Linked DNA regions of Homo sapiens: region 2 is linked to region 1. The links come from fine-mapping of genetic effects on gene expression. A gene starts in region 1. The other region holds a variant in brackets. All regions are shown on one strand. Distances are from middle to middle.

Evidence for each region. PIP is the estimated chance that this variant, and not a neighbour inherited with it, causes the effect.
Region 2: its variant is the best candidate, but not a certain one, in a credible set for the expression of ZNF462 in lung (TOPMed, PIP 0.74).

What each region holds. Positions count from the first base shown.
Region 1 is chr9:106,861,371-106,865,755 of GRCh38, forward strand. It overlaps ZNF462 (zinc finger protein 462), which reads left to right and starts at 1,796. Exons shown (of 13, transcript NM_021224.6): 1 at 1,796-1,985.
Region 2 is chr9:107,017,887-107,022,271 of GRCh38, forward strand. The region is part of intron 4 of LOC340512 (a long non-coding RNA gene); the gene reads right to left. Among named protein-coding and RNA genes, the nearest start is that of ZNF462, 160 kb to the left of the region's middle. The variant G/A (reference allele first, on the strand shown) is at 1,806.

The sequences.
Region 1 (4,385 bases):
TGCTTGGGGGGAGGGAGGAGAAAGGGCGAGTATTTAAAGAGGACAGACTTGCCCAGGATCCTTAACACCGCGCCTTCACCGGATGCGCGCTCCTCAATGCAAAGGAATCCAGCAACATCCCCAATTCAGACGCGGACAAAAGAAACTTTAATTAAGGTCTCTTTCTGCCCCGCGCGCTGCGCGTTTCTCTCTCCTGAGGCTGTTGATGTCCAACTCCAAGATCCAAGAAATAGAAATGGTACAATCAGCCCATGCCCTTGAACTTCAATTGCTCCTGACTTGCTGCATTGATTTTTTTGATACTGTAGAACCCCCATCCCCAACCCCCACCGCTCCCAGTCCAATTAAAACCGTAGGAGACTTTCGACCTGGTGGTGGAGGGGGGGAACCACTCCTTTGCAAAAGAGATAGTTCAGAATGATACGGGAGAGATTACACTAAATAAAAATTCAAGGTGTGAAAGCTTCATCTTGGCTCGCGTGTCTTCAACACCATGACACCTTATCATTAAGAGCGCTGATTGTTACTTTCCGAGCCTTTAGATGATCAGCCAGAAAGTGCAAACAACGCGGGGCTGGAGGGTGTAAAGTTATTTAAGCAGGCGTTCTTTTTTTCTTTTGGTGCGCAGTCAAAACATTTCACAAGTTAGGAAAAGAAAGTGGTGGTTCCGAAGCTCGGAATGATGGGCTCTTTTCCTCCTCCACCCCCCCACCTTCCATATCAGGAAAGAAATAAAACGCACAATGAGCCTTTATTTCAGGAGAGAAGACTTCAAAATACGTGCCAGTAATGGACAATTTGAGCTTTTCACTGGAAATACTCACACCGCAAGCTGGAAAGGGATTAAAAAGCCCCACGTGGTTGATCTGGGTTTATACTTGCAACCTCCAGTTCCCCACGTATGTTCTTTGCAAAGGTTGGCCTCTAGATGGATGCAAGTAAGGGACCCTCTGGGGCTCGGGCTCGGCGCCTCGGGCAGGGCTGACGTTGGGAGCGCTATGAGCTGCCGGGCAGGGTCCTCACCGGGGGCTTCCTCTGCGGGCCAGGGCTGCCGGGCGCCACCGGGACGCGAGCGCGCACGCCTCGGCCCGGCGGCCGCGCTCCTCGCACCGCCTTCTCCGCAGGTCTTTATTCATCATCTCATCTCCCTCTTCCCCTTCTCCTTCTCCTTTGCCTCCTTCTCCTTTGCCTCCTTCTCCTCCTCTTCCTCCCCCTCCTCCACCACCACCTCCTCCTCCTCTGCCGCCGCCACCTCCTCCTCTTGCATCTCACTGGCCTGGCTCTGAGTGACAAAGACAATGTCCCAGCCTTAACTTTGCAACCACCTTGCCTCCTTCTGGGGTTCAGCAGGGGGGAGGGGGAACAGCAGCAGCAGCCTCAGCATCTCCTCCAGCTTCTCCTTCTGCTCTTCTCGAGCTCTTGGATAATTCTTCCTCTTTTTTCCCCTAGCCTTTTTCCTCATTTCTTTCTTTCTTTCTTTTTTTCCTTCCTCTCTGCTGCACGTTGTTGTTGTTATTAGAAAGGCTTCGCGCACCCCCTGGTGCTCCGGCGTTTTGTGTGGCAGGAGAAGATTGTCTTCCTTCTCTCTTTCTGTCTTGCTTTCTCTCTCCCCCTGGTTGCTCATTATTCAGAGAGAGACACAGAGGGAGGGAGAGAGAGAGAGCGCGCGAGGGAGAGGGAGGAGAGGAGAGAGAAGAGGAGAGAGAGGGGAGAGAGAGAGTGAGAGGGAGAGGGAGGGAGGGAGAGAGAGAGAGAGGGAGAGAGACGGATATCTCAGGTCATCTGCAGCTGCAGCGAGTCTGAGGAGCCGAGGAAGGCAGGGAAGATGGCGATCCTCCATTGCTGAGACCCGGCAGAAGCACATGAGACTCCCAAACAACTTCCACAACAATAACCCGAGCAGGAAGAGGAGAAAGAGAAAGAGGATAAGGAGGCGGTGGGGCTGGAGAACCCGAAGCACCTCCCGGCGCCGGGACGCTTCTTCTGTAAGTTACTGCAATTAACAACCACCTCGGGGTGGTCCGAGTGCTCCGGGGAAGAGAGCGCGGGGTGGTGGAGGCACAAACGCGCTCATTCATTCGGCCAAGGAGGGTTGGAGGAGCGGGGAGGAGAGGAAGTCCCCTGCATGGACTGGCTGTTGGAAGAGGAGAAGAAGCGAGAGAGAAGAGGAGGAGGGGGAGGAGGGAGAGCAGGAGGGGGAGGAGGAAGAGGAGGAGGAGAAGCGAGGGAGGAAGAGGAGGAGGAGGAAGAGGAGGAGAAGGTGGTAGTGGTGGCAGTGGAGGTGGCTGTGCTTTTCCTGCTGGCTGCTGCTCCTGCTGGGGGGAGTGAGCGCGGTGGCTTAATTAATTTCGTGTAGTTCTATGAAGAGAAGAGAAAATGAAAGATGAGTGAGAAGAGAGCTGGAGGCTTAGGACGGATGCTCCGAGTGTGGGGACAGGAGTAGGGACAGAGGGGGGCGGAGGGCGGGAGGCCGGAGACCTGAGCCGAGAGCCAGAGGGAGCGAGCGAGGGTCAGAGGAGGGAGAGCTCCGTGCGAGCGGCCCCGACCTGAGCGGGTTGACCTCTTTCTTTCTCTGTCCCTCTCCTTCCTTTCCCCCTTCTGTCTGCCTGTCCCCCGCCCGATGGCAAAGCCGTGCGGATTGGCAGCCCCCCTCTTCCTCAGGTATTTGGCTCTCTCTCTCTCTCTCTCTCTCTCTCTCTCTCTCTCTCTCTCTCTCTCTCTCTCTCTCTCTCTCTCTCTCCCTCTCCCCGAAGTTGGGATGCGGGGTCGGGATGTGTCGGGGGGTGGCTGCTGCAGCTGCTGGTGCCGGTGCTGCTGGTGAACAGAGAGGCGAGGAGCGGGGGGCACCGGCCGGGTGGGGGGCGCAGGTTCAGGAGCGGCTGAGGAGCTGTCTCCAGGCTGGAGGTTCAGAAGCGTCTGGTGGAGGAGGACAACGGTTTCTGGAGAGGAGAAGCCATTACACACGCTTGGCTCTCCTCTGAGGAAGGGAGAAAGGAAGGCAGGGGCCTGGGGGGGCGTCTCACTCCTGGTGCAGTTCCCAGGGGTCTGCCCTCCTTCCAGGCACGAGGGGAAGCCGCAGCCGCCCCCCATTGGAGCAGCCCCTCTTTCCCTTTCTTTATCTCCCTGTCCTCCATTTGCAAGCTGTCTGCTTTGGTTCCAGTCCAGACTCCAAAACACAAAGCTCCTTCTCACGTTCATTCTCCAGGCTGTTCACCATTCCTGAAGGAACCCTCGTTTTCTTTTCATTGTGGCTTCTAACCTACAGAGAGGGAGGGAGGGAGGCTGCCTGGAGTTCCTTTTATATTCCTCCCCAACCAAGAAAAAAAAAAGTTTCATTTTTAAGCACGCGTCTGGGATGGGGAAAGACCAACCAGTTGGGGCTTTCTCCCAGGGCTCCCGGGGGCTGTGTCTGAGTGTCTGTGTTGGCTGTTTGGTTTGCTTTGGTTTTGTTTCTGGAGGTTGCTTGCAGGTTTTTGGAGGAAGTGACTAGTTTGGTTAAGAGCTGGGAACTGAGTCAGGTAAGCCGTGTCATGTTGTAACTCCACCAGAAAATGGAGGAGAGCGGGTTTCCAGGAGACAAAGCTGAGATGAGAAGTGTTTATAAAATTATGGATGTCTCCATTTTGAAGCTCTGTTGGTGATGGCTGGAGGAGGAGGAGGCTTGCTTGCCTACTCCTTCTCTCTTTCCAGAGGGAAACCTTGTGGTGGTTCCTCACTGTCTATTCATTATGCAAGGAAATGAGGGCTTTTAAGGGTTCCTCAGATTTTTCTCCACCAAAGAGTGCTTTCACAAGTTATTGAGGCGTTTGTTTCCATTTTAAAGTAAACTTTTGGAATTTTTTTTCTCCTTTTGAGTGGACCTGAAGGGTTTTGACCTCCTTCAGGAAAGGCAAGGCAAAAACCTTAAAACAGTTCCACTGAGGTCTTCACACAACTTTAAGCTGCTCCAGGTCTCCTGAAAGTCACCAGGAAATGTGATTTCCTCCTTGTGAAGATGGTGATGGCCCTAAGCTGAGATTTTTTTGAGTTCTAGGGTTTGGTTATCATCATGTTTTGATGCATTGCAAGACTTTATTGTCTGATTTGAGTTGATTTCTGCAAATATAAAAAATAATAAGAATAATCCTGCAAGATCTCAGAGGAACTCTAAGACTGGCTAACACCAGTTTCTCCAGGTTCTCCATTTCTCTTCAGGTCGTTCCATTTGTATGTTAGGCCTTCTTTCAGTTTCTTTGTTTCCCCTTTCCCTTTCCGTCGGCTAATTTTTTCTGTGTTCTGAAGTACTCTTAAGTCTTCAGAAATATCAGTATGTCTTCTTAACAATGTCGCTATGGAAACAAATTTTAAAAACATGATGTCAGTTGAGAAAACCTTATGTCCAGGTA
Region 2 (4,385 bases), 160 kb after region 1:
CATCATTTCCTGAAAATGTCAGTTCCTTTCTAAACAACTCACACCGCACGTATCTTGAGTGCTAAGCTTTTTTTCTCTTCTGGAATTACCTCCCATTGAAGACTCAGCCTAAATGTCACTTCTGATGTGAAGCCTTCCCTGCCTCCCTATGAGTCACAAGATATAGACTATCACCCTAGCTGTCACCTACCCCCCATCTTAATAAACATTTATGGAAGGCTCATTATGTCCCAGGAATGGTTCTAAATACTTTATACACATCATCTCATTTAATCCTTGTGTTGGTTTTCCTAAGACTGCTGTAACAAATGACTACAAACTTGGTGGCTTAAAACAACAGAAATGTATCCTCTTACAGTTCTGGAAGCCGGAAGTGGAAAATTAAGGTGTCATTAGGGTTGGTTCCTCCTGGAGGCTCTGTGAGAGAACCTGATTCATGCCTCTTTCCTAGTTTCTGGAGGCTGTGGGCAAGCCTTGGTGTTCCTTGGCTTACAGACGCGTTACTCCAATCTCTGCCATCTCCCCTCACATCACCTTTTCTTCTGTGTCTTTTCCCTTTCCCCTAAAAGGATATCTGTTATTGGACTTAGCACACACCCTAATCCAGAATGATTTCCTCTCAAGATCCTTAATAACATCTGCAAAGATTCTTTTTCCAAATAAGGTCAAAGTCACAGATTCTAATTAGACATATCTTTGGGGGTGGGGGGAGTTCCATTCAACCCGCTACAGTCCTCCTAAAACACATATGAAGTGACTACTATTATTAGCCCCATTTTATAAATCAGAACCCTTAGTGAAAGGCTAAATAATTGCCCAAGATTCACAGCTCAGGAGGGGTGGAGCACTTCAAGCAGCCAACGTGCATTCCCTTAACCACTGCTCTACACCCTTCTCTTTGTCTTATTCATTGTTGCCTCCCTAGTGCCATGCACAGAACCTGGCCCTGAATCAGGACTCAATAAATGTCTGTGGAAGAAATGGATGGATGGATGGATGGATGGATGGATGGATGGATGGATGGATGATGAAATGTTCTTCTCTCCCCCACCCCCACCCCACTCAGCCTCTAAGTAGCTGAGACACATTGCTGTCAGATGCAGCTAGCCTTTTTAAATTCAAATATATTCCTGTTGATACCAAGTGTTAGTTCTCATCTGATTTGGCATCAATGTTACATTTTCTTTCAGAGCTCGATATTGCTTTTTAAAATATCTAAGTAAAAATATGCAGCTTGGTAGATGAAAAATGTCTTTGTCTGCAACTCCAGGCTCTCCCTGAGAAAACGCCAGAGAACTCAATACCAACACTCCCCCTTCAGAGGTCACCTTGAGCCTCCTCCTCCTTCCTTGCTTAGAGGTGGCTAGGAAATGGAAGAAGAGGTCCCCTGGGTCTGAAAATTATAATAGACGGCAGCAGTGACTGCTAGTAGAGGAGGGGAGAAAAGCCGGAATTGGCTGTGATGGGAGTGGAGATCCTTGGCTGTGACTAACAGGGCAGACTGTGTCAAGATGTTTAGTGGTGAAGCCAAGTGAGTAAGAGTGGGACGGTGGCTTGAGAGAGAGAGGGTTGAGGGAAGACTGTTTTTTAGAATACACATGACTTGGACATGTTTATCACACTGGAAAGAAGGAGCCATGGCAGTTGTAGGGGCACTGACAAGCAAACTCTTACTGGGATACAGGGCACAGGAGAACAATTGGCTTTAGAGATGAAGAGGGAAGGAAGTGCAAAGGGAATGTGCTCTCCTCTCCATGAAGGTGAAAGATTCAGGGAGTGACGGGGTTCATGCTGAGGTGGGATCC[G/A]AAGTCAGAGGAGAGGGATGAGTAGGCAGAGAGGTGAAGGGTTGGAGCTGCTGCTGAGGGCTGTGTAGAAGAGAACTGGTGGAAGTAAAAGGAAGCTGAACAGAGCTGAAACCGATTAGTCAGTATTATGCTCTTCATACGACAGAGAAAGCTTACCCAGAGGGTCCAGGGTAATAGATCTTTTGCTGGGACTTCCTTCCCAACATCCCTCCACACACATACAAATGCACATAAGCATGCACACACCACCACCACCTAATAAAGAAAAACGAGAGAGAGTCACTCTAGGAATCTGAGGGGACACTACCTTTCCCCACCTACCTAATTATGTGGCTTTTTGAATTAGGGCTGGATAGCAAACTTGCCTTGTTTCTACTCACAATTTCTCTCTTGAAATTCCCATTAATGAAACAGCTTAGTTTGGTTTAGCTAACTGCATGCATGACTGCCAAAAACCACATCACAATGCAGGAGGAATGCAGTCTCTAGCAACGCTACAACAGCTTAACCACATTGTTTAAAGAGAGGAGCTGGGGCAGCCCCAGTGCTTCTGAAATCCATTTAAGATGTGTGAAAACATGAGACTGAAATTCTGACCTTTCCCTAGAGCTGGAAGAACCTCCTCCAGGGGGCTGTTTGGAAGACTGCAGATGCAGGCCTGGGCCCATCTACATCTCCCCAAGACTCTGGCTTCTGGTAGCCTGTCAAGCAGGGAAGCCCTGCCTCTGTGTCCTGTCCCTGACGGGGCATCAGCCTGGTTAAGAGTGCAGTCTCTGAAGCCAAGTTGCCTTAGTTCAAGTCTTGACTGCTCCATTTATAGTGTGGCCTTGGGCACTTAACCTTCACACACTTCAGCTTCTCCATCTATTTTTGGCATTAAAGTTATTGACATAAAAGTACCTAGTCACATACATGTTATAGGGATTAAATACAATAAGTAAGGCCTTTCCCATAGTTTGTGCTCACTTGGTATAATTGATCATCATCATTCTCATTGTTATTGTGCTTAATTCTTTAGTGACTTGGAACCTTTGTTTCCCCATCTGCAAAGAAAGGACAATAACATCACCTTCCTTAAGGTGGCTTAAAATAAAAACAGATTAAAGAGACTAGGATGTGCTTGGTATGTGGTAGACACTTGATATGTGGCCATTGATTTTACTACATCTCTACTACATCCACTGATTTTTCTCTTGCTGGCCTTGCAGAAATGTAAATGGCTTGATTTCTTCAGTCGTTAAGTATGAAGATGGAAGATGGGTAGAGCTCACACCACAGGCTCTGGGGTCAGATAGAGCCAGGTTTGAGTTCTCTTATGAGCTTTGAAACCTGGGGTGCTATTTAGCCTCTTTTATGCCTTAGTTTTTTTAATCCGTAGAAAGGGGAATAAAAGTATCCACTGTGAAAATGCCATGTGATAAAGCAGTATCGGGGCCAGAGGAGGACTGCAGAGTGTGAAATGCATGCTCCTTGAGGGCAGGGGCTCTCTCAGGCTTCCTGTTATATCCCCACAACTATGAGCACACCTGGCTTGTTGTAGGGCTGCTCCATAAGTATTTGCAGCCTGACTAATGTAGAAGTGAGGCAGAAGCTCAGTGCTGATCTTTGAAATGAGGTGTGGTCCAAGAGGGCCTCATAATTTCACTCTGTATAATTGGTTGAGCAAGTGCCACCCTCACTTATTAGTCTTTTTTTCTGTACTGCAGCTCTGTTTGAGTCTTCCAGAAACAGAAGTATTGCTCTGCAAATACTTTTCTGCCACTGCAGAGGGTTCTCATACTTAAAAAGTTCCAGTCAGTCACCATGCATCCCACCACCCCACGCCCGACACTACCTGTGAAGAGGCTTCCCAAGTGATAGATGGTCATGCTTTGACTAAGCAGCCATGAGAAGATGTCTTGCTTCTATTAATTATCCTAAATTGGTTATTGATTATGGTTAGATTTAGAAATATAGTCACTGTCCTGGTTTAAATGTAAACACTGCAGGATTCTTGCTTATGAACCTTGTGAAGATACTAGAAGATCCTAACTGACCTCCAAATCACACTTTGAGAGTTCTTGGAAACAAAGTTCCTACGTTACTAAAGAATTAAAAACTACAACAACGATGATGATGATGGTGGTGGTTACCATCAATTGCACACAGACTATGAAAGAGGCATGGAGCTAAATTCTTTACATGTATTACTTTATTTAATCCTCATAACATGTATATGAGGGTTAGAAAAGGGGCTTCCCTCTCCCCAAGATTTACTGATGAAGTACACACTCAGCTGCCTGACCCTAAGTGTTCAGGGAGCACTGGGAGCCAATATGCATGAGCATTTGAGGGTAAAACACTCTACTCCATGGCCTGCTAGAGGGATTCTTCTGAATTTAAATCTGAGCCTGTCTCTCTCAGACTTAAAGCACATCTCTTCAGTGAATCTTCACTCATCCTTCAGGTCTCAGCTTACATGCCACCTCCTCTAGGAAGGGTTCCCTTGCCCCCAGGATTGAATGAGGCTTCCCTCCCAGGTGCTCCTGTAGCCTTTAGGGCTTACTGAGATCATTGCACTGAACTGATAAGTCAGAATTG